7 linked regions of the Homo sapiens genome follow. The protein of the gene in region 3 purifies or fractionates together with the protein of the main gene of each other region. This does not show direct contact. Each region holds a gene or a part of one and is shown on either strand. Other genes may lie near its edges.

Region 1 (3,500 bases), on a different chromosome or scaffold from region 3:
CGCCAGTCAGCCACGAATGTGGCCTAGAAGAGAGAAGTGGGCCATTCTGTGAGGTTAGGGTTATTCTGCTGACACAGACACCCTTAACTGAGCCCCAGACCCTTCTGATCATGACCCTTCCCTGGGGACCCCCACCAAGACCTCTTTGCCCCCCTTCCCTCTGGCTCTCTTCCCACGTTCCAGGCTGAGGGCCCCCCGGGCCTGCCCTCCCGCGGCTGACCAGGGTGAAGAGCGTGCAGAGGCCCGTGACGGCCCCGAAGGCCGCGATGTAGCTGTGCATGTCCTGGTGCTCAGCCTCTGTGAAGAGCGGGTTCTGGCACTGGATGCCGCAGCCCTCCACGTCCTCGTACCAGCTCTTGGGGTTGTCTGTCCGAACCAAGGGCACTTCGCACTGGCCTGAACTGTTGAACTTGATGTTCTGCACCTCATTCTGGCACCAGGGATGGGAAAAGACGGTGTCAAGGCAGCTCAGGGACGAGCCTCTTGTTTAGGGAAAGGTATCTAGGTAGCATGGCAGGGTGGCTGGAGATACACTTCCAGGACCTGAATCCCAGGGCTGGCTTGGCAAATTATTTGGCCTCTCTGTACCTCAGTTTCCCCACTTCTTTCTTTCTTTTTTTCTTTCTTTTTTTAGACAGTCTCGCTCTGTCGCCCAGGCTGGAGTGCAGTGGCGTGATCTCAGCTCACTGCAACCTCTGCCTCCCGGGCAATTCTCCTGCCTCAGACTCCCGAGTAGCTGGGACTACAGGCGCCCACCACCACACCCGGCTAAATTTTGTATTTTAGACGGGGTTTCACCAGGTTGGCCAGGCTGGTCTTGAACTCCTGACCTCATGATCCACCCACCTCGGCCTCCCAAAGTGCTGGGATTACAGGCGTGAGCCACTGCGCCCGGCCAGTTTCCCCATTTCTAAGATGGTAGTACTTACCTTATGGTATGGTTTAAGGGTTAAATGAATAAACATATATTATATATATAGAAAGAGAGAGACAGAGTCTGGCTCTGTCGCCCAGGCTGCAGTGCAATGGCACAATCTTGGCTCACTGCAACCTCCACCTCCCGGGTTCAAGCGATTCTACTGCCTCAGCCTCCCAAGTAGCTGAGAATACAGGTGCCCACCACCATGTCTGGCTAATTTTTTGTATTTTTAGTAGAGACGGAGTTTCACCATGTTGGTCAGGCTGGTCTTGAACTTCTGACCTCATCAAGTGATCCACCCGCCTCAGCCTTCCAAAGTGGTGGGGATAACAGGCATGAGCCACTGTGTCTGGCCAGCCTATTTATTTATTTATTTATTTTGAGACAGAGTCTCACTCTGTAGCCCAGGCTGGAGTTCAGTGGCACGATCTCAGCTCACTGCAACTTCCACCTCCCGGGTTCAAGCGATTCTCGTGTCTCAGCCTCCCGAGTAGCTGGGACTACAGGCGCACACCATGACATCAGGCTTATGTTTGTATTTTTAGTAGAGACAGGGTTTTGCCACGTTGGCCAGGCTGGTCTGGAACTCCTGACTTCAGGTGATCTGCCCACCTCGACCTCCCAAAGTGCTGGGATTACAGGCATGAGCTTATTATAATGGCATTTGGCATATAGTAAACAGGACTAATTAGTATTATTACCATCATTATTACTGTTATTATTTTCATTGAAGACCTCTCCTGCACCACCCAGAACTAGCTCACGTCCCCTGTCTTGGTGGCTCTAGCTGTTTCACACGCTCGCGCCTTAACTCCCAACATACATGAGAAACTTCCTGATAGGCTCCTGTCATCCGTGATGCCCGTAACACCACAACACCCAACAGCCAGTGCTCAAAACATTTTGCTGAACATGTGATCATTGATAAATAAATAGAGAATCCCTAATAGACGGATCCAGCCAGTGAGCTGCAGTTTGAGTTTGTGTCCTGTTGACCCCATGGCTGTAGGCTCAGGGTCTCCAGGAGACAAAGCTCTGGGCTCCCCTGCTCCCCACTGGACCCTGCCCTATACCCGGTCCTGCCCAACCCAGAGAGCCTGGACCTTGTCTCACAGAGCACTCACCGTGCAGCCTTCAGGGAAGCGGTCAGGAGTGCAGCGCAGGAAGTCAGGCCAGCCCCGCTCCCTCTCCACGATGGCACAGGGGCCTCGGGTGGCCTGGCAGAGGGTACGGCTGGGCAGCTCCACCCGGTCATTCTCACACTTGGGCATGTATACGGCACACAGCAGGGGCTGGATCACTGCCCAGCAGCGGGGGGCATTCCGGAGGCCTGGGGGTGGCAACAGCATTGCAGTGAAGGCCCCTCCTCACTCTGACCCACAGACGCAGCTTCACCCCTGTCCTCCAGGCCTTTGCCACACTGCAGCCCATCACTGGTCAGACCTGGCAGGTACAGTGTTTCTCAACAGTGCATCTGGGCAGGACAGTTCTTTATACCATAGGACTGTCCCATGCATTGCAGACACTAGACTCTGCCAACTCAATGCCAGTAGAACCCAGAAGTGATTGTGACAAACAAAAATGCCCCAGCCCTCTACTCTAGGGACGGTGACTAGAAGGGAGCCTGGAGAGGAACCTCTGGGCTGCTGGGAATGTTTTACTTCTTGATCTGGTACTGGTTACATGGGATGTTGGGAATATTCTATCTCCTGATCTGATACTGGTTACATGAGTGTATTCACCTTGTGGAAACCAAGCTCATGATCTGTGCGCTATTCTGTATGCTTACTATCATTTAAGTTTTAAGAAAATAACTGCCACTTCCAGATGCCCTGCTAGGGAGTGGTAATGCCTCTGGTAGAGCTCCCCGGGGTGGATTTACCTTTTCAGGGGTGCACCCAACTCTCACGGGGCCCATTTGCTAGAGCCAGGAGATGTTTCCCTTTGCCCAGACCCCAGAACCCTTGTTCCTCTTACCAAGCGGAGTGAGAGAGAAGAGATGGGGGCTTAAGAAGAGGTAGTCAGAGGAGCCAGGCACTCCAAAGCCAGAGGAGGAAGCAGGAAGTCAGATGGAGAGGAACAGAAGAGGCTCTGTCCAGTGCGGAGAGGGGAAAAATGTTGTCAGCAAGACAGAAACAGGCGGCAATCTCCCAGCACCCGTCCCCAGCCTAGTCCTCCGCCCTGCCCATCACAGAAGCCCTTCCTGAATCAACCCTGCTTCAGCAATATCTATTTCCCAAGCAAGAAGTTGCATTAGGAGAGAATATGAGGATGTGAGAGCCAACATGGGTGCCGGTCACATTTCCAGGCTGGGGGTGGTAGAGACAGGTAACCACTCTTTTCGGGGGAAGGCAACATAGTAGAGAGGTAAGGGGCATGTGCATGGCAACTGCCCAGCCTGGGTCCAAATCTTGGCTCCACTCTTTCCTGGCTGTATGATCTTGGGCAAAGTACTTTATCTTTAGCCTCAGTTGCCTCATCTGTAAAATGGGGATGATAGATTTACCTCATGGAACTGCTGTGAAAAGTGATATAATGCTTTAAATGCCCTTGGCACAGTACCTGTCATGTAGTAAGCGCT
Region 2 (3,500 bases), on a different chromosome or scaffold from region 3:
AAATACATATACAAATACACAGATGCATACACACACACATTCACCTAGAAGACCCAAAATTCAGATTCTAAGGATTAGGATGAATAAAAAAAGAAAAAGATCCAAAAGAATATGCTGGCATATTATGTCTCAATTTTTGCATATAGTGGCATAAAACAACACAAATTTATTATCTCACAAAGGCCAGCAGAGTATGGCTGGATGCTCTGCTCAGTATCCCTAAGCTAAAATCAAGGCATCGGCCAGAGCTACAGTTTTCATCAGGGGCTTGTAGTCCTCTTACAATATCATTGGCTACTAGCAGAATTCATTTCCTCCTTGCTTCATGCCTGCAGTGGTGCAGAAAATCCTCTGATCTCTCTTTCTACACAGGCTAGAGAAAGCACTTTGGTTTTAAGGGCTCACGTGATTAGACCAGGCCCACAGGGTAATCTTTCCAATCTGTCTAATGTGCTATACAAAGTATCATAATCATGGGAATGGCATCTCATCATATTCATAGGTTCTGAGGATTAGAGTGAGGACTGTTGGGGAGGGGAGGCATTTTCAGAACTCTGACTACTACAGCCACAAAAAGTTTTTAAAAATCAATTAAAACAGCTTTCTTACCTGTTAATAACGAACCACGCAACAGTAAGCATTCCTGCTAGCCATGTTCCACTCATAAGCCAACTTGTAACAAATAAAGCAGTAACATATATTCCTTGCAATCCAAAAACAATGCCAATATAGAAATACACTGGCTCAATAATCTCCTATGTGGAAAAAACAGAAAGAGAACAAGACAATAGGATGGCATTAAATAATTTGAGGATTCATGAATACATGAGAAAATAAATATTAGGGTCCAACGAAAAATACATACATTGCTACCAGTGGCTTGATATAAAATGCTAGCAATAAGTTCCGGATACAGAGACATTTGCTGCACTGCATTTATAGTCTTCAGAGATACAGTTTTGTTATTGTGTGTCAGTTCGTAAACACCTAAAGACAGAAAGATTTTTCTCCAGATTATTTATTCTGCTTCACAGTAATTAAACATGTCATTAGTCCTTAAATATTTAATATTGTTATCAAGAAAGATCCCAAATAGAATACTCCATGCTGCATTTTCCATTTTTTAAAAATTTAGCACAATAAAGAGAAATATCTATATCCTGAGACAAATCCCCACATTGAAAGGTCCCAATATAGCAGAATAGAAGTTATCAGAGGCTGGGAAGAGTAGAGGGGAGGGGAGGATAGGGAGAGACTGGTTAATGGATACAAAATTACAGCTAGATAGGAAAAATAACTTCTAGTATTCTGTAGTACTATAGAATGAATATGGTTAACAACAATTTAGTGTATATTTTCAAAAAGCTGAGAGTTGATTTGGGATATTCATAACACAAGGAAGTGATATATGTCCAATGTGATGGATATACTAACTACCCTGATTTGATCATTATACATTGTGTATAATATCAAAATATCACTCCCCATAAATATGCACAATTACTACATGTAAAGTAAAAATAAAAGGAGGAGGAAAGGTTCTAAAATAGAAGAACAAAGTTTTATTTAAGAAAAATATTGATATTACAGCCGGGCGCAGTGGTTCACACCTGTAATCCCAGCACTTTGGGAGGCTGAGGCGGGCAGATCATGAGGTCAAGAGTTCGAGACCAGCCTGGCCAACATGGTGAAACCCCGTCTCTACTAAGTATACAAAAATTAGCCGGGCATGGTGGTGCATGCCTTTAATCCCAGCTACTAGGGAGGCTGAGGCAGGAGAATTGCCTGAACCGGGAGGCAGAGGTTACAGTGAGCCAAGATCGCACCACTGCACTCCAGCCTGGGTGACAGAGCAAGACTCCGTCTCGGAAAAAAAAAAAAAAGAAAAGAAAAGAAAAAGGAAAATACTGTTATTAAAAATATAACTGTGATTATCATACCTCTTTCAAATGAAGGTGCCTTTAACATATCTTTATAATAGGAGTAATAAATGGCACTGTCACCCTGAAACGTGATTTCCCGTTCAAGCTCCTAAAAGAAAATGAAATTATTATTTAAAATTTAATTTTTTTTTTTTTTTTGAGACAGAGTCTCGCTCTGTCGCCCAGGCTGGAGTGCAGTGGCGCGATCTCGGCTCACTGCAACCTCCGCCTCGTAGGTTCATGCCATTTCTCCTGCCTCAGCCTCCCGAGTAGCTGGGACTACAGGCGCCTGCCACCACGCCCGGCTATTTTTTTGTATTTTTAGTAGAGATGGGGTTTCACCGTGTTAGTCAGGATGGTTTCGATCTCCTGACCTCATGATCCACCCACCTCAGCCTCCCAAAGTGCTGGGATTACAGGCGTAAGCCACCACGCCCAGACTTAAATTTAAGTTTTTTGTTTTTAAGAGACAGAGTCTCTCTCTGTTACCCAGGCTGGTGTGCAGAGGCACAATCATGGCTCACTGAAACCTCAAATGATCCTCCCACCTCAGCTACCCAGTAGCTAGGACTACAGGCACATGGCCAGCATTTTTGTTTTGTTTTGTTTTATTTTTTTGTAAAGAAGGGGGTCTCACAATGTTGCCCAGGCTGGATTATTTGAAGTTTTTTGTTTTGTTTTGTTTTGTTTTGTTTGAAACAGAGTCTTGCTCTGTTGCCCAGGCTAGAGTGCAGTGGCGCCATCTCTGCTCACTGCAACCTCCGCCTCTTGGGTTCACGCCATTCACCTGCCTCAGCCTCCCAAGTAGCTGGGACTACAGGCACCCGCCACCACGCCCGGCTAATTTTTTGTGTTTTTAGTAGAGACGGGGTTTCACCGTGTTAGCCAGGATGGTCTCAATCTCCTGACCTCGTGATCCGCCCACCTCGGCCTCCTAAAGTGTTGGGATTACAGGCGTTGAGTCACCGCCTGGCCCTTACTTGGTTTTAAATTTCAGCCTCTGGCCCAGCGTGTTGGCTCACGCCTGTAATCCCAGCACTTTCGGAGGCCGAAGTGGGTGGATCACTTAAGGTCAGGAGTTTGAGACCAGCCTGGCCAACATGGTGAAACCCTGTCTCTACTAAAAATAGAAAAATTAGGCCTGGTGGTGTGTGTCTGTAATCCCAGCTACTCGGGAGGTGGGAGAATCGCTTGAACCCAGGCGGCACAGGTTGCAGTGAGGCGAGATCACACCACTGCACTGCAGCCTTGGGACATGGAGTGAGATTCTGTCTCAAAAAATAATAACAATAAAATAAATTTCAGCCTCAATCTTCTGTCTCCCTCCTCACCTTCCAAATTAACATATTAATAATATTTATCCTTTTTATTCAAAGACATGTTTGAATTTTCTTTAATTACTAGTGGCCCCATTAATGAGGAACTTAACTTTTTAGTAATCTGGCAATAATTTTAATGAAACATTAAGGTTTAAAATGAATTGTAAATCACAAGTCATCACTTGTTATATATAACATATATCCGGAAAATCTAGAAGGAAAACCACAAGACATGCCCTAAGAATAGCAAGAATAGTGA
Region 3 (3,500 bases):
TGGGGAACATGGGGACAGGCGTCTTCCCAGTCCCTGTTGCCCAGGGCAGCACCAGCCACTGCAGGGGGCAGCTGGGCACAGCACTGCAGGGCTCTGGCAGGAGTGACCTCCACTGCCACCCCAAGAAGGGGAGAAGTCAGGGTCACCTCCAGAGGCCCTAGCCGCAGAAATGCTGGCCAGCTGGACCATGGCCCTATACCCTGGCTCTCACCTCCTGGCCCCTTCCTCTGCACCAGCCCCTCATGCCAAGCCCTGAACCACAGTAAGCGGCAGAAGAGATGCAGTTTATGCCATCTCTGCATTTTCCCAATATCTGCACCTGTTTCTTTTTTGTTTTCTAGAGATGGGGTCTTGCTCTGCCCCCCCATGCTGGAGTGCAGTGGCAGGATCACAGCTCACTACAGCTTTGAAGTCCACGGCTCAAACCATCTTCCTGCCTCAGCCTCCCAAATAGCTGGGTTTGGTGTGTGCCACCATGCCTAGCTAATTTTTTTCATTTTTCCATTTTTTGTAGAGATAAGAGTGTCTTGCTATGTTGCCCAGGCTGGTCTTGAACTCCTGGCCTTGGCCTCCTAAAGTGCTGGGACTATGGGCATGAGCCACCACATCCAGCCTGATTCTCTTTTTCGGCGCCTGGACCATAGGCCCTGGAGCAGAGGAGGTCAAGAGGGTGGGAGAAGGCCAGGAGGCCCAGGTTCCCCCACAAAACTGTGCCTTTGTACACACTATGGCATCATCTTTGCAGTGACCTCATGAACTCCCTGTTGTTTTTCTTCTATGTGAGGGTTAGAGAACCCAGCTTGACTAGAGAGCAGCAGTTAGCTCAAGGTCACACAGATGATGGCAAAGGAGCTGGGACTGGAATGTGGGTCTGTCTGACTCATTATCATGTTGCTTTACTCAAAACACTAGGTTCCAACAGCGCTACTCATAGCATGGTCCCAGAACCACCATCAGCATCCACTGATCAGCATCACCTCGGAGCTTGTCAGAAATGCAGGTCCCCAGGCCTAGGCCCAGAGCTGCTGAATCAGACACTCTGGGGGTGGGGCCGGGGATCTATGTTTTAAGTAACTCCTAAGTGATTCTTACACAGGTTAAAATTTGAGAACTACGGGGTTAAACCACATAAAATTGCCATTTTGGAGAGGATGTGTTGGGGAGATAGAAAACAGTCAAATATCAGGTACATCTTGTACGCTTCCCGGGTGAGGGCAGGGGCCACCCAGCCAGCCTCACTCACCACAAGATTGCCGATGACCATGACCATGAGGAAGACGGTGAGGCACATGGCTTGGCCGGCCACCTCCATGCAGTCCCACATGGTCTCGATCCACTCCCCGCACAGGATGCGGAAGACGATGAGGAAGGAGTGGAAGAAATCATGCATGTGCCAGCGCGGCAGGTTGCAGTCCAAGGCAATCTTGCACACGCACTCCTTGTAGCTCTTGCCAAACAGCTGCATGCCCACCACGGCGAAGATGAACACGATGATAGCCAGCACCAGCGTCAGGTTACCCAGCGCCCCCACTGAATTGCCAATGATCTTGATGAGCATGTTCAGCGTTGGCCACGACTTGGCCAGCTTGAAGACCCGCAGCTGCCAAGCAGGGAGGGCAAGGGTGAATGAGGCCCAGGGACCACCACCCAAGGCAGCCCCAGCCTTAGGAGAAAGAACAGTGTCGAGTAGCTTGAATCTCCAGCCCCCCACACCATCTGAGTCCTCAGTGTGCCCTTCTGCTAAATGGGAACACTCATTCTACCACCTCAGGCCCTTCATGTGTTAAAAAGAAAACAAGTCCAGGCCAGGCGCGGTGGCTCACGCCTGTAATCCCAGCACTTTGGGAAGCCGAGGCGGGTGGATCACTTAAGCTCAGGAGCTGGAAACCAGCTTGGCTGACATGGTAAAATCCTGTCTCTACTAAAAATACAAAAAATTAGTCGGGCATGGTGGCGAGTGCCTGTAATCTCAGTTACTCAGGAGGCTTAGGAAGGAGAATCGCTTCAACCAGGGAGGTGGAGCTTGTAGTGAGCAGAGATTGCACCACTGCACTCCAGCCTGGGCTACAGAACAAAACTCCACTAAAAAAAAAAAAAAAAAGAAAAAGAAAAAGAAAAGAAAAGAGAAAAAATGTCATTCGTCATTATCTGTTAAAGATACAGACTATGGCTGGGAGCAGTTGGCTCACACCTGTAATCCCAGCACTTTGGGAGGCCGAAGAAGGTGCATCACTTGAGCCTAGGAGTTGGAGACCAGCCTGGGCAACATGGCGAAACCCTGACCTACAAAAATTACAAAAATTAGCTAGGCATGGTGGTCCCACCTATGCAGGAGGCTGAGGTGGGAGAATCACCTGAGTCTGGGGAGGTCAAGGCTGCAGTGAGCAGTGATCGTACCACTGCACTCCAGCCTGGGTGACAGAGAAACCCTGTCTAAAAAAAAAAATACAGACTAAAGTATTTACAAGTGAAATTATATGTTGGGATTTGCTTTCACAATAAAAATTGGGGGACAGATGCAACAGGAATTGTAGAATGTTGATAGTTGTTGAAGCTGGGTGATAGGTACGTGGAGGTTCATTATACTTTCTCTATACTTTTGTGCATGCATGAAAAGATCCCTTGATAAAGTTTGTTGTTGTTGTTTTTTTTGAGACAGAGTCTCAATCTGTTACCCAGGCTGGAGTGCAGTGGTGCGATCTCGGCTCACTGCAACCTCAGCCTTCCGGGTTCAAGTGATTCTCCTGCCTCAGCCTCCCAAGTAGCTGGGATTACAGGCGTGCGCCACCAAGCCCAGCTAATTTTTGTGTTTTTCGTAGAGACGGAGTTTCACCATGTTGGCCAGGCTGGTCTTGAACTCCTGACCTCAGGTGATCCACGCGCCTTGGCCTCCCAAAGTGTTGGGATTACAGGCGTGAGCCACCGCGTCCAGCTGATAAAGTTTTAAAAAGAATAATAGTGCTCCTTATGGGGTGGTGAAAAGACAGAAATTCAGAGGTCCCAATCCTACTCCTAATGAACTTCCAGAGCCCCGGCTTTCAGGTCTGCAGTATGGGGCTGGAGTTCCTGCTCCACTGCTGCTCAAGGTCATTAAGGAATCAAACCCAGTGTTGGCCTCTGTCACTTGGGTCCCCCCAGCAGCCCTATGAAAGAAGACAGGGCTCTCCTTTTCTCTGTTTTACAGGTAAGAAAGGTTCTGAGAGGTAACAGGTGTGCACAAGGCAGAGGAGGCCTCGTTTTCAGCCCTCTAGCTTCCTGGGGTTTCTCCTCCCATCCCTGTGCCCACCCTCCTTAGTCTCCTCACCCCACCCCCATCCCAGCCCCTGGCCCTGGGGCTTTTGTGTACCAGACGGAAGGAGCGTAGCACAGACAGTCCCTGTACGTTGGCCAGGCCTAGCTCTACCAGGCTGAGGGTGACGATGATGCTGTCGAAGATATTCCAACCCTGCTGGAAATACTCGTAGGGGTCCATGGCAATCAGCTTCAGAACCATCTCTGCT
Region 4 (3,500 bases), on a different chromosome or scaffold from region 3:
CCACCAAGGGCAGCGGTGAGGGTGGAGAGGGAAGTGGCTCGGATGGCCCACCCTTCCTGGGGCTGGCTGCTCAGCCAGGCTGGGACTCTGAGAGGGGCCCAGGAAGGCATCTCAGGGAAGGAGCAGGAATCTCTCATGCAGGAGGTGGCGGAGGGTGTGCACTACGTGTCTGAACGCACGTGCACCTTTCCTATCATACAGGCTGAGCAGAGCAGGTCAGGCCCTCACCACGCCCAGCACAGAGAAGAAGATGACAATGGCCAGGCAGGCGTAGGCACTGTAGGCGCTGGCGTTGATGTCCGGGTGCCGCTTCTGGTAGAGCTTCAGCATGCAGAGTCCGGCGATCATGTACATGAACGATGTGTCTAGGATGAGGGACACGGAAGGGAGCTGCAGAAATGGCCACCAAGCCCCAGCAGAGAACTCCTGGCCCCAACAATCCCAGAGGAAGAGAGAGCCCTGGTGCCCCACCACGGCCATGGTGTGAGCTGGTGGCAGGGTGGCACTTGAACTTCAGTTCCTTAGTTGTACCTGCCACACCACACTGCCACCCCACTGGCTGTCACCCAGAGTCTGACATCTCCTGAAAACAGGGACAACTTGGTCTGTGTCTTAGTCTGTGAGCACCCTGAGATCAGGGACTCCCTTTTATTTTTTTGGAGACGGAGTCTCACTCTGTCGCCCAGGCTGGCGTGCAATGGTGGGATCTCGGCTCACTGCAACCTCCGCTTCCTGGGCTCAAGCAATTCTCCTGCCTCAGCCCCCTGAGTAGCTGAGATTACAGGCATGCACCACCACACCCAGCTAATCTTTGCATTTTTAGTAGAGATGGGGTTTCACCATGTTGGCCCGGCTGATCTCAAACTCCCCACCTTGGGCGATCCCCCCGCCTCAGCCTCCCAAAGTGCTAGGATTACAGGCATGAGCCACAGTGCCCAGCCAGGGCCCCCTTCTTTTTTTTTTTTTTGAGACGGAGTCTCGCTCTGTTGCCCAGGCTAGAGCGCAGGGCGTGATCTTGGCTCATTGCAAACTCTGCCTCCCGGATTCATGCCATTCTCCTGCCTCAGCCTCCCGAGCAGCTGGGACTACAGGCGCCTGCCACTGTGCCCGGCTAATTTTTTGTATTTTTAGTAGAGACGGGGTTTCACCATGTTAGCCAGGATGGTCTGGAGCTCCTGACCTCGTGATCCATCTGCCTCGGCCTCCCAAAGTGCTGGGATTACAGGCGTGAGCCACTGCACCCGGCCAGGGACCCCTTCTTAATTATACTGTTTTCTTCACTGCGGCACATGCCTTTACATAGGAATAGCTTGACAGATGAATGAAGCAGCATCTAGGTGCCCATGTTCCATAGGCTAGGATGTGTGCACACCCAGGCACGCCAGCCTTGGAGTTTCCTACAGGGGTGTCTTAGCGATCCCTGTGGGTGACTTGGGGATAGTGAAGGACTCAGGCAGGTCCCTGCTGTAGGTTGAGCCAGAAAAGAAGGACGCCCCACTCACCAAACTGGAAATTGGTATAGTTGGGGCACACATGATAGCAAGCACTGAGCAGCCCCTCCATCATCAGGGCTGTGCCCATGGCGTAGAAAAGCCCAAAGTGTTTGGGGATCCCACATTCCTGTTGGGGAGAGAGAGAAGGGAAGGGAGGGAGGAAGTGAGGCAGGAAGGGAAGAAGGGACCCAAAAGAGGGACCCTAAGAGGAGTGGAAGAGGAAAAGGGGTGGGGTATGTGTCGAGTGTGGGTGTGCAGGGGTGGGCTGGCCTGGGCAGGCTGGCAAGGGAGGGCAGGGCAGGGTGGGGCAGGCTGGGCTGGATAGGGTGGGCCAGACAGAACTGGGGAGGGGAGAGCTGGGGAAGGCAGGGCCAGGCCTGCCCAAAAGGGTGTCCTGGAGCCAAGGCTTGAGGTCTGTGCTGGAGCTGAGGCTGCGGCAGGCAGGCAGGTGCTCCCTTACCAGGGCACAGAGGTCATTGCGCAGCAGGGCCCGGTTGTGGTTGATCTCCCGTTGCAGGATGATGAGCAGGAAAAGCAGCCCCAGCAGGATGTACCCCAGGTTGCTGAGGATGTTGTTGAAGGCGCTAGAAGGGGCAACACAAGGCAGACTGCTTGGGACTCACACCCAGGCCTCTTCCCTAGCCCACGTGGGCATTGCAAAGCCCCAGGCCCTGCCCCATTTCACCCTTGGCCTGGACAAGGGGCCTCCCAGCATGACCCCCACCTGAGATTGCCCAGTGGGTGGGCGCAGAGGAAGTTGTAGTAGCAGATGTCCTGATTCCCTGTGACATTCACCACCTGTAGCAGGAGCAGGGACAGGGAGTGGGTCTGTCGTCACGCCCAACTCAGCCCACGCCCCGCCATCCGGGCCCCTTTGGCAAAAAACAGCAAGTGCCACCACAGCTAGCAGGTGGGAATACACAGCACCGCAGGCACGTGTTCCTTCTGAGAACATGGATGCCATGCAGCACAGTCGCTGTCCCCTCTCATTAGGCGTGGCTGAAAACCCTGAGGCATGACCGTGATGGAAGTTCTTGCCCCACGGGACAGAGAAAAGGGAAGGGAAACTGATGCTTACAAAGCCCCAGGACTTTGGTTTCATAATCCGCACAAGAAACCAGGGAGGGGCTATCTTTAGTGCGGGCTGCTCCCATTTTGCAGATGAAGAAACTGACACTCAGGGTTGGGGGGGTTATGTGATTTGCCCTGGGTCACTCGGCTGGGAAGGCAGAGCTGGGATCTGAACCCAGGTCCTGTGATGGAACACCAGGGCCCCAGGCTGGGAGGCTCTGCACTTTGGGGCGGTGTCCTAGGCTGTCGGAAAGGTGAACCTGCCCTGCCCTCTCACCGTCTGGTAGGTGATCACCAGCTGCACCACAGGAAGGGCATAGAAGACAGCAATGGTGGCAATGTTCCTGCGGAGCAGGAGGGCGGCAGTGAGGTGGGTGGCACCCAAGGCTGCCACACACCCACCAACAGCAGAGCCCCAGACACTCAGCCCACTCACCAGAAGTAGATCTGGTACTTTTTCCGCAGAACACGCTTGTCCTTCCGTGCCAGGTCAGCCACATAGAGGTATTGCTGGGGAGAAGCTGGAATCAGCCCCACTTACTGCTACTTGGGAGAAGCCCCCTCCCCCAGGTTAGAGGTGGACAAGAGGGGCCTCCCTCACACAGGGCCGAATTCAGGGGGGCAGGGTTCAAGGACATCCCACTGCTGCGGCCGCTTAGACCAAGAGGGTTTGGCCAATCAGGCCGGAAGGGGTTGGAGGTCAGGTTAGTTTCCCCGGCATCTGCCCTGCCCCAGCTGAGCCCCTTCCTTCTGCTTCCCTAAATGCCACGTCAGTGGGAACATGCTGGGGCGGGAACGCAGAATGTCCCTTTCTCAGGAAACGCCTGACCAGGCCAGGCCCACGGGTCAGACCTTGGTGCGAATGACATTCTTGTCGGAATCGATGTCGGTCAATGTGTCGTAGTCATCCTCCTCCACAGAGCTCATGGAGTCCAC
Region 5 (3,500 bases), on a different chromosome or scaffold from region 3:
TGGGGACTAGAGGAGGAGTAGCTACATGCTGGCTGCCTTTTTCACAGCAGGCTCTCAGATGCCTAGTGCAGGGTTTTGGGAAAGCTGCTGGACAGTGGCAGTGTGCCACAGGGGCTTCACCTCTGCTGCAGCTCCAGCACATTTTGTGTAGGAACAGATGAGCCTGAGTGAATTTTTAGCACAGACAAAACAGCTGGGAATGGAGCACAGGTGCCAGAAACCCTCACGACAAAGTCCCTGGATCAGTTGGAGGGGTGCAGCAGCGTCGGGGGGCCTCCCACACCCTGACCTGGGTGGATGGGTGAGTGACACAGACTCACTTGGTCCTACGCAGCTTGGTATTCTCCGTCTTGAGCAGGTAGAGCTTCTTGGCAAAGAACACCGTCATCATGAAGAGCAGGAGCAGGACGAGGGCAGCCGAGCCCACGGCCACGCACATCACCTGGAAGTCGGTGATGATGGACTCGCAGCGCATCCCCTTGTGCCAGATGTAGTCCTGCGTGTTGCACCTGCAGCAGCGACATTGAGAAACCGTGGCGATGGAGCAGGCAGCCACGGCCACAGTAAGGGCCTGGGCCCTGACCCCAACACCTATCTCCACAGCCTGTTCCGAAGGCCATCTAGAGGAACTGCAATGCTCCGAATCTGCACAGACCTCAGAGCTGGTGTGATCGCCCCTGCCTTTACAACCATTCTATGAAGTGGGCCAGGGAGCTCTGAGGTCTGTGATATAAATGAGGTAACCGAGGTGTAGAGAAACTGAGTGAACTGGTCAAAGTTCTCTGACTGCTAAGTGACCAAGGAGGGAAGGGAATCCTGGTCTTCTGCTCTGCAGCCTCAATGAAGACACCTACAGGATCCTCTCAGGCCTCTCCCTGCCCTGGGCTCTGGGTGAAAGAAAGATGAAAAACAAGAGGAATAAGAGCTACAGCTACAAAGTCCCAGGACCTGCCCTGCACATGCAAACCTATCTTGCTGCTTTGCAGTCCCACCTAGTTCACGTGGCTGAGAAGACACCTAAAAATAAGGAAGTGACAGACAAGGACAAATAGAAAGATGGATGTAGATTCTTCTATCTCTGCAGCCCCCCCAAGTTCTGCCCCTAAAGCTCCCTATCCTAGTACTATGAGAACTGTCATGCAAGCACAGTGAGAATCAACCCTCTGGGTGGGTTTTAGCCTTTTTGTTGAGTGACTTTCTCCTGCCCTTGGGGACATTCCCAGGCTCCAACTCTTCCAATGACATTGCTGTTTCCATGGGAACCAGGCTGCTTCAAAGAGGAAAGATGTGGAAGGATACAGAGGCAGGCAAAGGAGGGAGGACATGAACCTCAGGGTGAATGACAGACAAGAGAAAGGGCTCCAGAAACGGGGAAATTATGCACCAGAAAACTGGCTACTCCACATCTAGAATAGGGTGGGGAGACATGGCTAGCAAGAAATTCTTCATTTTCCAACTGAGCCTCTGCCGTCATGGGGAGGCTATCTGTTTGAGGTTGCCAGGGAATGCAGACCCCTGTAAGTGGGGCCTCTACCCCGGTGTTCTAGAGAAGTTCCGCCACAGCTCTGCTCATTTCCCTGCAGTGGGTCAGGGTGACAGAGACAAAGGCACACTGCAGTCTGCAACCAACGGCTCAGCAGTCTCCTGTGAGTGGAATGCAAAAATAGTTTTCAAGCCGTGGCCAGGCCTGGGTGTACACAGCCAGGGGAGGAATCTGGTAGGGAGGCCCGAATGTGATCCTGGGATGGAAGCTAAGCAAGGGGAACTGGAGTGGACACGTGGAGAAGCCCTTGTGAGGCAGTGAGAGGCTGGTAGACCCATGCTGGCAGAGCCATGTAGCTTACTGAGGAAGACAATCTTATTCTTCCACTTGGGAATTTTCTGAGAGTTCCAGGAGATTCTGGGGACTTTTACAGCTCTCTAGAGGCAGCAAGGGCTCCAAATTTCATACTATTATGGGGAGTTCACTTTGAAGGTGAAAATTCCAGGCCTCCAATAGGATGAAAGATGATGATTTTGCAGAGAGGTTGCACAGCCCCCAGGCTGAAATCATCACTATAGTCCCCCAAACTGAATTTTGAGGAGCAAAATCACAGGGTTTCCTCATATTTCTGGTAGCCCTTAATCAACTGGCAAGTTAGTTTATTGCCATATTTTCTTTTTAAAAATAAAATTGCTACAATTTCTTAATCATAGTACCTCCTTCTGGCAATGGCTGGACCACTCCAAGAACTGTGTGGTCACATCCTATGAGTGACCCTAATGTCATGACCATTTATAATAAAGAACTTCGGCTGGGCGCGGTGGCTCACGCCTGTAATCCCACCACTTTGGGAGGCCAAGGAGGGCAGATCATGAGGTCAGGAGATTGAAACCATCCTGGCTAACACAGTGAAATCCCGTCTTTACTAAAAATACAAAAAATTAGCTGGGCGTGGTGGCGGGCGCCTGCAGTCCCAGCTACTCCGGAGGCTGAGGCAGGAGAATGGCATGAACCTGGGAGGCGGAGCTTATAGTGAGTCGAGATTGCACCACTGCACTCCAGCCTGGACGACAGAGTGAGACTCCGTCTCTAAAAACAACAACAACAAAAAAAAGAACTTCATAGAAAGAAACTGGAACTTAAGTTACAACGCCAAGGACAAAATACTCATTGCTTTCTACATGTTATTCTCTGATATACTACATCAAGACCTAAGGAACTTGAATTCATCATATACTTGCAGAACGAACAAGAACAAGAAGGATGGAGAATGACACTTGAAAAAGAGATACCCTGGCCGGGCGTGGTGGCTCACGCCTGTAATCCCAGCACTTTGAGAGGCTGAGGTGGGCGGATCACTTGAGGTCAGGAGTTTGAGACCAGCCTGGCCAATATGGTGAAACCCCATCTCTACTAAAAATAAAAAGAGACACACAGATGACAGAAATGCTCCATCTAGGACTAATGGAGACAACCCTCAAAGGAGTCTGAGGGCTCTCCTCCATTTCTACAGCCTGTAAAGGATGGAGACAAGCAAACCACCTGATCACCCCACCCTGGGATTCTTCCGGAATCAGGCTGCAAGCTCTCCAGCAAGTTAAATACCTCACTGTGAGGACAGTTCCTAAGAGTGAGGTGAGTAGGGTAATTACTGATGAGCTACAGACAATGCCCTTAGGAAAACTAAACTCTGAGTCTTTAAAAGGATTATGGATTTGATATCCCAAGGTAGACAAACATCAAAGTAGAAAGAAAAAAGCCACCTCCCAAAGTCAAGAAACACCCGCACATCTGCAATGCGAAGACTCTCAGCTTGATTTTATCTGTGTGAGTGGCTGCATTTTGGGGTCTGTTTCCAAGAAGGTCCTCCCTTTTGAGTTTGCGTGCCTACATTCCTTCCAGGGAACTGGCCCCTCCTCCCGCCGAGCACAAGGCATGGAGCGGTGTTCAACAGCTGTCTTTATCCCACAGAGTAGGTTTATGGGCCTACCCCTCTCACCAGTACCACCAGAACCCT
Region 6 (3,500 bases), on a different chromosome or scaffold from region 3:
CCCTTTGCTTGGAATGAATTTCCTTTCTTCTCTTGTTTGTTGGGTAATCACCTATTTATGTTTCAAAATTTACTTAAAACATTTTCTGTGTGATGTCATTCTTCATAGTTTCACCATCTCTCTCTTCCTTATTCAACACACTGCATTGTGATTAGTTATAAATCTTCCCTAACAGATCAGAATATGTTTTGATGTAGGGACCAAGTCATAGTTATTATTGTATTCCTGGAGCCTAGACTATTTGTTGAGTAAGTGGTTTTAAAACAGCTTCTAAAACATTTAAAAAATTACTTCTGTATTTTTTTCCTTCACTTCCATTTTTTTTTCAGATTTAACAAACATTTATTAAATGCCAGACATGTTGGGGACTTCCACCAATGTGGCAAAGGTGAGTTTTTATGAAGTGCTCACACTGTGGTAATTGCTATGGAGTTACAATAAAGTATAAAACAGTCTTACAATTGTTTTCAGATTTAGCTGGCAGGAGATTTTAAAAAAACTCACACATATGTAGCAATTCTAAAATAGTTAAGGGCCAAACTGGGAGGTACTAACTTGATAAACTCAGTAGAACTTTAGATACAAAGGCTGATGAAGGCTGGAGGGCCTGGGGAAGAGTACATTCGGTAGAGGAAGGACTTGAGGGATTTGTTTGTGATTTTGAGAGGCAGGTGGGACAGAGGAAACAGAACCGTTTAGGGAAAGTGGCAAGTTATGATAGGAAAAAGACTAGAAGAAAAAATGAGTGTGGCATGTGCACAAGACTGAGGACGACATAACTGGATTGGGGGTCAGTGATACAAAGTCTTGTGGAGACTTAACCTAGTATGTATGAGTTCATTCATGATATAGGCCATAAAAAGGTATAGATCACATTAGAAAAGATTGTTTTATCATCCTACATTTTCCTATTTTGTTTTTCCTCAGACTCCCTCATGCCACTTAGCTGCCTCAGAAAAACTGACAGTATTGGAGGATGCCAAAAAAAGAAAAAAAGAAACTGGTCAAGAGACCCTTTGTGATTTTGTCTGCTATTGGGCAGCAACTCATGAGAACTGGCCAATAAGACTCTACGGTTATATTAGAAGTGGCTCTGGAGACCTTAAAGTTATGCTATTCTCATTTATTTTAGTGCAGAAAGGACTCAAACAATCTGACATCAGTGGGAAGAGCGTATACAATGAAAATCGAGTGTCTTTGGACACTCTCTGTACTCAGGTCTTTTGAGCTTTTCAAATAACAAGGTACCAAGGCTCCTAAAAAGCCAAAAAATGTGGATTCATACTGGCTGCTCTACTCAGAGATTTGGGCTTACAGATCTAATAGCTCCATTAAATGCATCGTCATTTTGTTGGAGGAGACAGTATAGAGCGGTAGTTAAGAACACAGACTGTGGAGACAGGCTGCTAGATGTAGAACCCTAGATCTGCCACTTGCTAGCTGTGTAGCCTTAGATAAAGTACTTAAGTTCTCTGTGCCCCAGTTTCTGCATTTGTAGCATCTCTTAATTTTTACACAACATGTAAAAAATACATCAGTTTTGTGGCAGGTAAGGAAGTTTGTACTTTTTGGTTTGTTTTTAAGACAGAGTCTTGCTCTGTCACCCAGGTTGGAGTGCAGTGGTGCGATCTCGGCTCACTGCAACCTCCACCTCCCGGGCTGAAGCTATTTTCATGTCTCAGTCACCCAAGTTGCTGGGACTACAGGTGCATGCCACCACGCCTGGCTAATTTTTGTATTTTTAGTAGAGATGGGGTTTCGCTATGTTGGCCAGGCTGGTCTTGAACTCCTGGCCTCATGTGATCTCCCTGCCTTGGTCTCCCAAAGTGTCAGGATTACAGGCGTGAACCACTGTGCCCAGCCTGGAAGTTTGTACCGTGGAGCTAATTCTATTCACCTTTTTATTTTTTCCCCACGAGCAGATTCAAGTTGCCCTGGATATATGCTTGCTGGAGCTAATTCTAACTAGACAAGTTGCTACAAAAGACAAGCAAATATCAACTGCATGAGTGTTAGCTCATCCTTGTCTCAACAATGTCTCACTCTGTCGCCCAGGCTGGAGTGCAGTGGCGCAACCTCGGCTCACTGCAAGCTCCGCCTCCCGGGTTCACGCCATTCTCCTGCCTCAGCCTCCCGAGTAGCTGGGACTATAGGTGCCCGCCACCACACCTGGCTAATTTTTTGTATTTTTAGTAGAGATGGGGTTTCACCTTGTTAGCCAGAATGGTCTCGATCTCCTGACCTTGTGATCCACCTGCCTCGGCCTCCCAAAGTGCTGGGATTACGGGCATGAGCCACTGTGCCTGGCCGAAACCTACTGTTTCTAAAAGGTCTGTTAGTAACCTCTAGTCTTTGGCAACTAAGAATTTTAAGAAATATTCAATAATTCTTTAACTTGACAGCTTAAGAAACCAGGTTGTGAAATAGTGGTTTTTAAGAGGGTTCTTATGTGGCTGATACTTTAGGTGCCATTAAATAAAATATTAGTACACATAAAATAATCTAAAATCCCAAAAGATAAGCTTTAGTGTTATGAAAACAAAATTTAGTTAACATATATTAAGAAAATGCTTAGTATTAAGTAAACCAAGAAAAAAAAGAAAAGAAATGGAAAGAAAAACCAGCATACTTCCTTCCAAAAGGAAGGTGATTTTGTCTTTTAGGTAAACCACTTAACATCAAAAGTTTTTTCAAAACAGAAAAAGTATCTATTATGAAAAATATATGTATATTACTGAATTAGCTGTATTTCATCTTGAAATTCTCAGAAAAAGATAAGGTAGATGTTGCAGCTTCCTTGATTTTAGAAGAAATACTACATTAGCAAACACTGAACCAAATAGGAAAGGGTATGAGGCTTATGGCTCAGGGTGCAGGCACTAAAAAAGTAGCGGTAACACAGCTAATAGGAATTCCTGCAAAAGTTTTGAAAAAAAGACTCCTCAACCAATTTGCTCTACAAAAGAAAAAACTTTCTTTTCTACTGTAGGCACTGGTATATGACTTTTGTTGCTGACCCTTCAGTAGGGCTCACAAATATATAAAATAGAACATAAATAAAAATTATATACAGTTAAAAGTATAATAGTCTAATACCAAACACATTTCCAGAGGTACCAAAGAAATCAGGTTACATGTGAAAACAGTATTTGAGTTATGTTGTAGTATCACTACATTTAATGATGTAAGGAGCTTCAGGACTATGAAGAAAATTTAAAATTATTATGTTATTCTTCACTAAGAAATAAACAGTACCTGTTGCAGTAGTCAACCACAGACTCCCTGGTTGTAAATAAAGCTTCCTCTCCTTTCTTGGCCTTTGCCCACTTTGAATCCAAAAGACAGTCCACTGCTTTTGAAGCTAAAGAAGAAATTCATTATTTTAAATTTAGCATACATGGGGATTTATGTCTATCTAAATAATATTTTATAAAGTAAAATTTCAACACTCTGGCAACAAAAAAGAAAACCAAACTCAACAGAAAACTAAATCTAACATG
Region 7 (4,290 bases), on a different chromosome or scaffold from region 3:
AAATTCATCCTTTGTGACTTACAGTTCTATGGATTTTGACAAATATATAGTGAACCTGAAGTCTACCACCACAATCAAAATACAGACTAGTTCCATCACCACCAAAAATTCTCCATGATGCTTGTTTGCAGTTAATCTCTCTCCCAATCCCTATCCTCTGGTAACTACAATCTGTTCTCTGTCTATTGTTTTGCCTTTCCTGAATGTCATATAAATGAAATCATACAGTATGCAGACTTACGGGTTTGCCTTCTTTCACTTAGCAAAATGTATATTTATTAAAACATCTGTCTGCATGAGTTTTGCTAAAACTCATATTTTTTCCATGTACAGAAAAAAGGACTGGGGGATGGGGGCAGGGGGAGGGATAGCATTAGGAGAAATACCTAATGTAGATGACAGGTTGATGGGTGCAGCAAACCACCATGGCACATATATACCTATGTAACAAACCTGCACATTCTGCACATGTATCCCAGAACTTAAAGTATAATAATAATAATAAAAAAAGAAGCAGCATATGTCACAAAAAAAGGACCATACCAATTGTCATCTCAAAGGCTAACAATGACATTTGAAGTTTTAAAACCACATTATATAGTTGTATTTCAGAGATGTGACCTTTAGTATATGTAAATGTCCCACTTTATAATTTTACAATCTAAGTTGGAAAATCTAGGTTCCTGAAGGGGGAAAAAAACTCTTGTCTTTATTGTATCTGGCTCTTGGCTCTTACCATGATTTCCTTTGATATCCAGCCACTTGGTTTTTTCCATGACTCTTGTCTTCTTCAGAATACCCTGGTAGGTTTGCCATTCTACCTCATGCTGCCTGGATCCCAACTGTTCCTTTGTTTTGGCATCTGTCAGGTCTCCTGTAGGTTTACACAAGAATTGAATCACAATGCAAAATAAACTACTGGGGGTTCCATTTTTTTTAGATATGTACACTGAAGGAACAAGGATACTTAAAGCACTCAACGTGTATAAGCATAACTGCTCACGAGACCACCAATGTCCAAATCGAGCCATCTAAACTAACAAGATTTTCTCAGCAAGGACTTTGTTTCTTATAGGTTAGCAAATGCCTGTTCAATCTCCTGTGATATTCGAAATGGGTTGTTAAAAAAATCTTTAAAGAGAACAGTACAAAATGCATCAATAGACTCTGATAAAATGAAAATGATTTATAAGAAATTCCAGTACTCTGAGTGGCTGCCTAATATCTATGGCAACCATATTTTCCAAACCACAAAATCAGAATATGTGATTTGACCAAGTATTATTTTTACAGCAAGAAGCAATGTGGCAGGTGGAATTGGACAACAAAATACCAAAATTTATAGAGAACTAAACAGAAAACTTTTTATGGAGGCTCATCCATTAAATCAGAACTGATACCCTTTCATGTCAGCAGAGATGCTTCAATAAGGTGGATGAGTGATGAATTCCCCAGTAAGCAAGATAGATAGATGCTCCTTTAGCTTCTTCTCCCCATTACAGTTTGAAAGCAAATAAAGTGTTTGAAGAGTCTAGAAAACTTAAGTCATAAAACTATCAAAGGATGAAGAAAAAGTGCCCTGGGTCACCGGAAGCCTCAAACAACTGAAAATATAAGATTAATAATGTAAAGAAAATAGAAAAGTTAGCAAAAGAAGAGAACTTCTGATTCGTGGTTACAGGCTTTTCCCTAATTCTCACAACCAGAACTGTAACAACAACAAGAACAAAAACCAGATACAAATATATCAGACAACAGACTGACATGAGAACCAGGAGCCTTGCTTCTACTGCTTTGACAAAACCTTGCTACGTCAAATCATTTTGCCTGGATCTTGACTCATTCAGTTATCCATAGGCAAAGGGGTTAGAATGTCCAATCTCTTCCACCTCACAGAGCTCACCTGGGGCTGTGGCTATACTGCTCCCAACGTCCCCAAAATGAAAAGCCACAGCCCTGGCTAGAGTTCTACCATGCGGACCACAGACCACCACCACAGCACGGCAAGCCTCCCTACCTGTTGCTAGGACGAGAGCTGGTTGAATGATGTCAATAGTTTCAGAACAGAATTTCTCTAAGTCTACCGCTCTGCCTGGATCTCGAAACCTGCTCAGGTGAATGTCGGATATCTGCCGAAAACAGGTATTGAACAGAGAGATCTGAGCCAGGAAGAGGCAGCATGGGGAGGGGCGGCTCAGCGGCTCTCTCGGGCAGAAGGAAAAGGCAAAGAGGCAATGCATAACGAACCCCCCAGGTAAGGACAGGGCCAGCACTAGACAGAGCCTCGAGTTACAATCTGACTGAGGTCCCCAGCCTGGAGCGTGGGGCCCAACACCCGCAAGGGTCCCACCGCACGGTGCCCGATCTGCACCTGCCTCCCGGCCCGGCTTCCCGCCGCGTCACCTGCAGGCCCCAGAAGATGTTGCTGTCTCCGGGCCCTGGCGCAGGGTGCGGCCTCCTGGGGGGCGCGGGGCGCGGCAGCGGCGAGGGCTGGCCCGCCAGGCCGTAGTGCTCCAAGAGCATGGCCACCAGCGCTGCGGCCGCCAACCCCGCGACCACCCTGAGAGCCAGCACTGCAGCCATGCCGCCCGCCCGCCGGGGCGCGGCCCTCGCTGATCCCGCGCAGGACCGCGCGGCGCTCCCGGGAGCCGCTTTGCCTGCACTTCCGGACTCTATTGTCGCAGGGCCAGAGCTGGATGCGGGGCCGGCGCCGGATGCGGGGCTGGAGCCAGACACTGGGCCTAGGGTGCTGCGCCCGTCAGCCGCCGCCCAGCACCTGCCCCTCTCTGGCCGCGCAAGTGACTGGGCTCGTTTTGCATAAGTAATACGATCACAGAAAAGAGAACCGAAACTCTGAACACCAATGACGGTGGCCGAGTGGTGGCGGGGAAGGAGACCGGGACCAGTGGCCGGGAGGCGGGGGCTAGAGTCCTGGCTCCGCCTTGGTCAGTCACTCCTGACCTCAGTGGGTCGATCTCCTTACCTGTAAAACGGAGTTAATAACACCTTCCGTGCGCACTTTGCAGGGTTGTTGTATCAAAGTGAGAATGTATGAGAACGCCTTTTAAATTGTCTCACAAATGTGTCAGGTGGCTTCCTCTGGCCCCTTCTGATTATTAACGTACCTCCATAGGTTTTCTTTTCTTTCTCTTCCCCTTCCCTCTACCATTCCCCTTTCCTTCACTTCTCAGACAGGGTCTCTATCCCCCAGGCAGGAATGCAGTGGCGCGATCATGGCTCACTGCAGCCTCGACCTCCCTGACCTTAAGTAGCTGGAATTACAGGCTCGCACCACCACGCCCAGCTAATTTTTTAAATATAGTTTTTGTAGAGACTGGGATCTGTCTGTGTTGCCCGGGCTGGCCTCGGAACTCCTAGGTTCAAGCGATCCTCCCGCCTCCGCCTCCCAAAGTGCTGGGACTACAGGCTGAGCCACCGCGCCCGGCAGCATAGGTTTTCTATAGATGTAATTCCTATGTTTTGTGAAAGTTATTTTTCCCTTAAACTGATTTCACATGCACCTGAGTAAATAATATTGCAACACGGTAGTATACCATTCATTTAATAAGTATTAAATACTTCCTATGGGCCAGACCCAGGAGAATTAGATTCAGCCCTACCTTAATTTATCTAACAACTCCCTTATTGTTGATTTTTTAATTGTTTATTATATATTGCTGTTCTGAGTAATTTTTTTCACGTCTTCCCTTTATTGAAAAAAATTTTAGAAAATGGCAGTTAATAAAAGGCACAAACAAATCAACAGGGATATACTAGTGGAAAACACAATATAAAACTAACATGTCATTGGCTTCTTTAATTGGTTAAGAGCACAAAATGTAACAGGCAAAAGGTCTGTTTCAAACAAATTAAAAAGCTATGTGTTTTTTAAATTCTCCCCAAATCAGATATATACACACCCACAAAAATAGTGTGTGAAGGAAAACTGTCATACACAAGAAGTCGTATCCTGAATTCTTCAAGGAAATACATGTGGAAATAGGAATTAACAGAGTCAGCAACAGATTAATTTTTTATTAATTGAGTCTTAAAATGCTACATAGCCCAAAGCTATACTATATAAAGTACTACTAGGTACAAAGGAAAGTCTGTACAGCTTTTAGCAAAACTGCTTTCCCAGAAAAGCAAATTAAAATAATGCAATCAGCAGACCCAGGAGACTACAGCTAGACATCAGAGCTACAACTTCTCATATCTCTCTCAGAAAATCCTATTTATCCAGAACAGACTAAAATTTCAGGACAAAACAGGGATTTTTAAACTTTTTTT

The links.
Region 1: the proteins of SCN4A (region 3) and SMO purify together in Homo sapiens (affinity purification with mass spectrometry; one large-scale study listed by BioGRID and IntAct). This does not show direct contact.
Region 2: the proteins of SCN4A (region 3) and DPY19L4 purify together in Homo sapiens (affinity purification with mass spectrometry; one large-scale study listed by BioGRID and IntAct). This does not show direct contact.
Region 4: the proteins of SCN4A (region 3) and SIDT2 purify together in Homo sapiens (affinity purification with mass spectrometry; one large-scale study listed by BioGRID and IntAct). This does not show direct contact.
Region 5: the proteins of SCN4A (region 3) and CSPG5 purify together in Homo sapiens (affinity purification with mass spectrometry; one large-scale study listed by BioGRID and IntAct). This does not show direct contact.
Region 6: the proteins of SCN4A (region 3) and SEC62 purify together in Homo sapiens (affinity purification with mass spectrometry; one large-scale study listed by BioGRID and IntAct). This does not show direct contact.
Region 7: the proteins of SCN4A (region 3) and TMEM62 purify together in Homo sapiens (affinity purification with mass spectrometry; one large-scale study listed by BioGRID and IntAct). This does not show direct contact.

What each region holds. Positions count from the first base shown.
Region 1 is NC_000007.14:129,202,133-129,205,632, reverse strand, and holds part of SMO (protein smoothened precursor), read right to left. Parts: intron 3,011-3,500; exon of another isoform or gene 2,897-3,010; intron 2,250-2,896; coding exon 2,044-2,249; intron 431-2,043; coding exon 221-430; intron 24-220; coding exon 1-23. UniProt on the Homo sapiens protein: G protein-coupled receptor which associates with the patched protein (PTCH) to transduce hedgehog protein signaling. Binding of sonic hedgehog (SHH) to its receptor patched prevents inhibition of smoothened (SMO) by patched.
Region 2 is NC_000008.11:94,736,900-94,740,399, reverse strand, and holds part of DPY19L4 (probable C-mannosyltransferase DPY19L4), read right to left. Parts: intron 2,032-3,500; coding exon 1,941-2,031; intron 988-1,940; coding exon 866-987; intron 756-865; coding exon 610-755; intron 1-609. UniProt on the Homo sapiens protein: Probable C-mannosyltransferase that mediates C-mannosylation of tryptophan residues on target proteins.
Region 3 is NC_000017.11:63,955,919-63,959,418, forward strand, and holds part of SCN4A (sodium channel protein type 4 subunit alpha), read right to left. Parts: coding exon 3,347-3,500; intron 1,601-3,346; coding exon 1,244-1,600; intron 1-1,243. UniProt on the Homo sapiens protein: Pore-forming subunit of Nav1.4, a voltage-gated sodium (Nav) channel that directly mediates the depolarizing phase of action potentials in excitable membranes.
Region 4 is NC_000011.10:117,188,743-117,192,242, reverse strand, and holds part of SIDT2 (SID1 transmembrane family member 2 precursor), read right to left. Parts: coding exon 3,417-3,500; intron 3,075-3,416; coding exon 3,001-3,074; intron 2,909-3,000; coding exon 2,842-2,908; intron 2,292-2,841; coding exon 2,218-2,291; intron 2,078-2,217; coding exon 1,954-2,077; intron 1,621-1,953; coding exon 1,503-1,620; intron 366-1,502; coding exon 229-365; intron 1-228.
Region 5 is NC_000003.12:47,572,366-47,575,865, forward strand, and holds part of CSPG5 (chondroitin sulfate proteoglycan 5 isoform 1 precursor), read right to left. Parts: intron 510-3,500; coding exon 321-509; intron 1-320. UniProt on the Homo sapiens protein: May function as a growth and differentiation factor involved in neuritogenesis. May induce ERBB3 activation.
Region 6 is NC_000003.12:169,976,807-169,980,306, reverse strand, and holds part of SEC62 (translocation protein SEC62), read right to left. Parts: intron 3,362-3,500; coding exon 3,256-3,361; intron 1-3,255. UniProt on the Homo sapiens protein: Mediates post-translational transport of precursor polypeptides across endoplasmic reticulum (ER). Proposed to act as a targeting receptor for small presecretory proteins containing short and apolar signal peptides.
Region 7 is NC_000015.10:43,132,096-43,136,385, reverse strand, and holds the start of TMEM62 (transmembrane protein 62), read right to left. Parts: upstream 2,801-4,290; 5' UTR 2,584-2,800; coding exon 2,404-2,583; exon of another isoform or gene 2,372-2,403; intron 2,130-2,371; coding exon 2,018-2,129; intron 875-2,017; coding exon 737-874; intron 1-736.